Regions from separate parts of the Homo sapiens genome. Here region 2 is linked to region 1. The links come from fine-mapping of genetic effects on gene expression. A gene starts in region 1. The other region holds a variant in brackets. All regions are shown on one strand. Distances are between the middles of the regions.

Region 1 (2,913 bases):
TCTCCGAAAATTCTAATATAAAGGAATACTGCTTTTGTAATAAGATTTTTAAAAGAAGGTCCTCAGTGGTTAAGTACTTGTCTGTGGTCAGAGATAACTGGCAAAGAAGAGGCCAAATTTTTTTTGAGACTGCAGTCTCCGGTGTAAAATGAGGGTGCAAGGTGCATCCCCGCTCCTGATTTTTGAATCATCCCTTCCACCACCTTGGAATGACTTCTTACGTAGAACAGCCAGCAAGTGGAGAAACTTGCCTCAATAATGCAAAACTGTCTCCCTAACTTACTTCCTTTCAATGTTCAAGCAAAACAAAGCCCTCTCTACATCCAACATGACAGAAACCCAACATGACAGAAAGTATGAGAATGGTTGGAAATTGCTGAAACAGCAACAGTAAAGATTTAATGAGCTCTCAAAGTACCTCTAGATGTGCAAATATGACAACCCAATAAAAAGAAACACACACATAACCTAGAGCCTTCAAAAATCTAGATTTCTGCCTTTCCACACCTTAACTTGGAATCATTCAGGTGGGTTCCTAAGCATTCTCTCGGAGGTGAGGAATCCTCCAAAGAGGAGACTCTAGGAGGGGCCCAGGTGTGGCAATCTTCAAAAGGATGAGGGATGTCCAGAGGAGAGGTGGCGGGAGGGTGCACTTAAAACACGCGAAAATTGGAAACGTGCCTTCTGCAGTCAGTTCCTTCGGATTTTCCGGCATTTAGAAGCCAGTTCTACTCCTTCAGCCCGACCGTATCTGCAGGTCTCACCCAAGACCAAGACCCCCGCCCCCACCCCTCCTCCACCCGGCCTCGAGCCCCGCCCCGGACGCTGGACCCGAGCGTAACGGGAGCAGGTGTTCACATCAAAGGTCTGGGTCGCGAAGGCAGAGACTCCATGTGCCGCAAAAAAAACTCCACGGACAATTGGGAGACTCCTTTCAAAAAAACAAAACTCCGGAGCCACGCGACTCCGCGCTCAGGGGGCGTGGGTACGGCCCACCACGAGGGCAGGGCTCGGCGCCAGCTCTCGGCAAAACTAACAATATTTGTTAGGCCCTAAACAAAAAGGCCCTAACAGCGATAAATCCATTCACTTCGGGAGTGTAGCAACCTGGGACACCAAGCGCCGCCCACGCCCCAGCTACGCGCCTCAGGGACACATCGATTGAGGCGCGGCTACTTTCGCGCACGCGCCTTGCATGCCCGTGCTTCGCCCTTACAGCAGAGCGCCTAAAACCGCTACGGTGGCTCTGCTGGGGACAAATTATTCACGTCCCACTGTTCTGCAAACCCAATCCGGGAGGTATGACCTGGCTGGGACAGTTTAGGAAGATGGCCACGAAGGCACCTGGGGGAGTAGATATATGTTTTTGAGAATGAGAGGAGTAAATCGCTGGACGACCATGAGCAGGAAGAAAATTAGGCCTCCACCTCCCAACCAGTGGCCCTGAGTTGGCAACTTAGACAGCGCGCGCCAGCGCCAGGAGCCCCGCCTTGGGGGCGTGGCCGCGCGCTGGTCGGCTGGGGCGGGGCCTGCTTCTGGCCTCATCTAGCCCCGCCCCAGGCGAGGGCGCCGCACCCACACCGCGCTGCGCAGTTTTGTTCTGCTCCAGCTGTTCGAAGGTGATCCAGGTGAGTGCTAGCACCTGCGGGCAGCCACGAGCACCGGGCCGCCGGGGGCACTTCAGCCTTTGCGCAGGGCACTCCCATATTTCAGCCTATGCGAGCTGAATAGAGACCCGCTGTCTCTAACCTCCCCCCACCCTTATCAGTAAATTAGCGATCTGAATTTCCACCCTCTCTGCTCTCCCCTTGCCTTGCATCTTTTCCCTGGTGGAGTGGGTTGGGAGCGTCTAAGCGAGGCCCGACCTATTTATGTGTAACTCAGGAAAATTCTCAAGGTCAACCCTTCCTCCATTCCTTCCTTTCCTCTCCTGCTGTCCCCGGGCTCTGCAGTCTGGGGGCACCTTTCTGCCTTCCGGAGACCACCCGACCTTGCCCTCTGCTGTTCCGGCGCAGAGGATGGCGAGCCGGACACTGCCGGGGGAGTGGTTGTGCAGGCCTGATCAGTAACACTGGTTTCAGAAGTGGCCTGTGAGCAATGCACCCGCTGCGGTGGGGATGTGTTGCTAGGGACGGTCGGGAGAGCCTCTGAAGGAATTGTGTTTGTTTTCCTCCTGCCTCTTAGAATCGTTTGTCCATTTGTACTGGGAAGGTGGTCATTTCCTACCGCTGACTTAGAGCAAGAGACGCCTCTAGGCGGGTGGGGGACTCTTCAGGTTCTTCCTTGGATTTCAGAAAATGCCCCTTCTTTATGTGGGGTGGCAGCACGGAGCCGTAGGGCTACAGTAGTGGGGCAGTTGCAGGGCGGTGGAAGGCGCTGGAGACTCCTTAGTGAGTCATTCCCCGAAGTTGTGGCTTCTGCTGATACTTTCCTTGAGAGTCACGAGTTTACAAGCTACATAATAGCGTCGGGGGCAAGTAAGTGTGGAAGACGAGGTAAAGGAAAAGCAGATACTAGGATGGGTAGAAGGAGAGGCAGGGGTTAGAACTTTAATTCCTTCCCTGGGGACAGGAGATGCCCTGGAGGGGAAGGCGCTTCCGGCTCTGCAGGTATGTGCTGTTGGGCCTAGGTGTGGTCCTGCGGAATTGCTGCAGATTTTAGATTGCTGGTGGGTAGGAGCTGCAGCGCTTCTCTTGGGAAATCTGTAGATCACCTGGAGCCAGCAGTTCTGGGAGGCACCCCAGGTTATTGGTCAGAGTTACAGGCTATATTTTATTTCAGTGAATTCAGAGAGCACATTGAGTCAGATCAAGAATGTTTATTCTCATAGGAGATGAATTTAAGGAGTTAAAACTAACATATAAAATAGAAACAAATACTTTCATCCCTGGGAAGACTTTCCGTTAAGCTTCC
Region 2 (2,913 bases), 21 kb before region 1:
TTGCCTCAGCCTCCCAAGTAGCTGGGATTACAGGCACCTGCCACCATCCCAGACTAATTTTTTATATTTTTAGTAGAGTAGCTGGGATTACAGGCACCCGCCACCACACCCAGCTAATTTATATTTTTAGTAGAGATGGGGCTTCATCATGTTGGCCAGGCTGGTCTCGAACTCCTGACCTTCAGGTGATCCACCCATCTAGGCCTCCCAAAGTGCTGAGATTACAGGCATGAGCCACTATGCCCAGCCAGAAGAGATCTTGACAGAAGAGATTTTAACAATGACAACACAAGCAAATTTCAACGTTTATAATATGGCCTAGTAATTTGTTTTTCAAATTTAATTTAAAGTGATCATTGTAAAATATGCCTCTTATATCATGACTCAGTATACATGTTTGTAGTCTAGCTCAGGATTTTCCAAACTATGGGTCTAAAATAAATTTGGTGGGTTGTTATCAGCATTAAAAAATATCAAATAGGCAGCTTAGGAGGCTGAGGTGGACAGATCGCTTTGAGTTCAGGAGTTCAAGACCAGCCTGGGCAACATAGCAAAACCCCATCTCTACAAAAAATATAAAAATTATCCAGGCCTAGTGGTTTATGCCTATACTCCTAGCTACTCGAGAGGCTGAGGCTGGAAGATTGGTTGAGCCCAGGAAGGAGAGGTTGTAGTGAGAGGTTGCACGCCTGCCTGTGTGACAGAGTGAGATCCTGTTTCAAAAAATAAAATCAAATACGATGAATAAGTACTGGAGACTCAATGAATAGCGTAGTGACTATAGTTAATAACAATGTATTGCATACTTGAACTGTGCTAGGTGAGTATATCTCAAGTGTCCTCACCACAAAAAAGAAATGGTAACTGTGTGAGGAGAGGGATATGTTAATCGGCTTGATTGTGGGAGTCATTTCACAATACATACATACATACAACATCACATCATACAGCCTAAATATATGCAATTTTAAATTGTCAATCCGACCCTTCCAGTTCATAAAGCTGAAAAAAAATCAAGTCAGAAAGAACTGAAGAGAAAATTGAGAGCCAGGCAGGCATTGTGGCCCAAGCCAGCACTTCAGGACGCTGAGTTGGGAGGATCGCTTGAGCCCAGGAGTTTGAGACCACCCTGGGCAACATAATGAGACCTCCTCTCTATAAAAAAGTAAATAAAACAAAATTAGCTGGGTGTGGTGGTGCACACCTGTAGTCCCACCTACTCAGGAGGCTGAGGTGGGAGGATCACCTGAGTCCAAGGAGGTCGAGTCTGCAGTGAGCCAAGAATGCACCACTGCACTCCAGTCTGGGCAACAGAGCAAGACCCTGTCTCAAAAAATAAAAAATAATCACGCCTGTAGTTCCAGCTACTAGGGAGGCTGAGGTGGGAGGATTGCTTGAGCCCAAGAGGTCAAGGCTGCAGTGAGCCGTGTTTGCACCATTGCACTCCAACCTGGACAAGATTGAGATCCTGTCTCAAAAAATAAAAATAAACATAAAAATATAAAAATATGGCCAGGTTTATGCCTGTAATCCCAGCACTTTGGGAGGCCGAGAGAGGCAGATCCCTGGCACCCAGAAGTTTGAGACCCCATATCAAAATTAGCAAGGCGTGATGGTGCCTTTCTGTAGTCCCAGCTATTTGGGAAGCTGAGGTGGGAGGATTCCTTGATCCTGGGAGGTCGAGGTTACAGTGAACCAAGATCACACCACTGCATTCCAGCCTGGGTGATGGCATGAGACCCTGTCTCAAAAAAAAAAAAAAAGAAAAG[G/GAA]AAAAAAAATATATATATATATATATAATAACAGTAAAAAATAAAGAAAATTGAGTCCATCTCATGTGATTAAAGAAAGTATTATTTTTTGGAAAAATGGAAGTATTATTATTTTAAGTAATTATTATTTAAAGGAAGTATTATTTCCAATGTATATATGAATGTGTGAGTTTTTATGAATGTATATACTGGCTTGCAACGTGAAATCAATTTCTTACTGTGATACAATGCCCGCCCTCCATTTGGAAAACATAGCCCTCACTGATTTCACGAATTGAGCTTCATTAGTCTTGATTACATATATGACTGCGAAGTTGGGACCTGGAGCAAGAAACAGCCTGGATTGCCTTCAGAGCAGGGTGGACCTGCCACACTGCAGACCGCTCTTCTTGAAACACAGCCAGTTGTACCTTTCCCAGCTTGTCTACATTGCAACCTCTGGTGTAAAAAATGTTAGTTATGAAAACTAGATACTGTCGCTGGGTGAGAAGAGTTTCAAATTTTAAAGTCTGTTCTTAGAAGGGGCGTCCCGTGGACCTTCAATATACACGTGAAAATAGTGTGAGCTCCTTTCATCTAGCTGGCTTTTCACCTCAGGACGTGTTTGTACCGGAAGATGCGTGTTTTCCTCGGGAGTCCTGCAAGGCACCCAGACTCTTTTTTAATTCAGCTCTCCCTTGGTGCTGTCGTTCTGAAGTCCTCAAACTGACATGTCAGAAAATGTTTTTGGTAATTCTTGGCTATATTTTTAAATTTATATTTATGGGAGGTAATAGAGGCTTAGAATTCAAGACATACAAAAGTGGGAAGCTTCCTCTTTCACTCCTGTCTTTGCACCACTCAGTTTCCTCTCCAGAGACAATAAACATTACTAGTTTTTTGTTTGGTTGGTTTTTGTTTTGTTTTGTTCAGATGACAAATTCTAAGTGCCAACCACCACCGTAATTTGAAGCAGAGCCTGGAAACAAGGTTCCTGAAAACTGGTTTTGCAACCTTTGCACTTTCACCACCTGAAGGATGAAAATTTTAGAGAGAGAGTTGGAGATGCATAGATTAGGAGGGAGCTGCTAGAGTGCTTGGAGTCCCACTGCACTCTAAAAGCATCTTTATAGAACATTTAATACTTGTATTGCCCTTATTTGTT

Evidence for each region. PIP is the estimated chance that this variant, and not a neighbour inherited with it, causes the effect.
Region 2: its variant is fine-mapped to the expression of MGST3 in activated naive CD4 T cells (Schmiedel 2018, PIP 0.95). The same link has a PIP of 0.9 or more in Th1 cells and regulatory T cells.

The regions. Positions count from the first base shown.
Region 1 is chr1:165,629,666-165,632,578 of GRCh38, forward strand. It overlaps MGST3 (microsomal glutathione S-transferase 3), which reads left to right and starts at 1,569. Exons shown (of 6, transcript NM_004528.4): 1 at 1,569-1,628. RefSeq lists enhancers at 490-1,020, 2,074-2,243 and a silencer at 1,404-1,643.
Region 2 is chr1:165,608,318-165,611,230 of GRCh38, forward strand. No RefSeq gene overlaps it. Among named protein-coding and RNA genes, the nearest start is that of MGST3, 21 kb to the right of the region's middle. The variant G/GAA (reference allele first, on the strand shown) is at 1,770.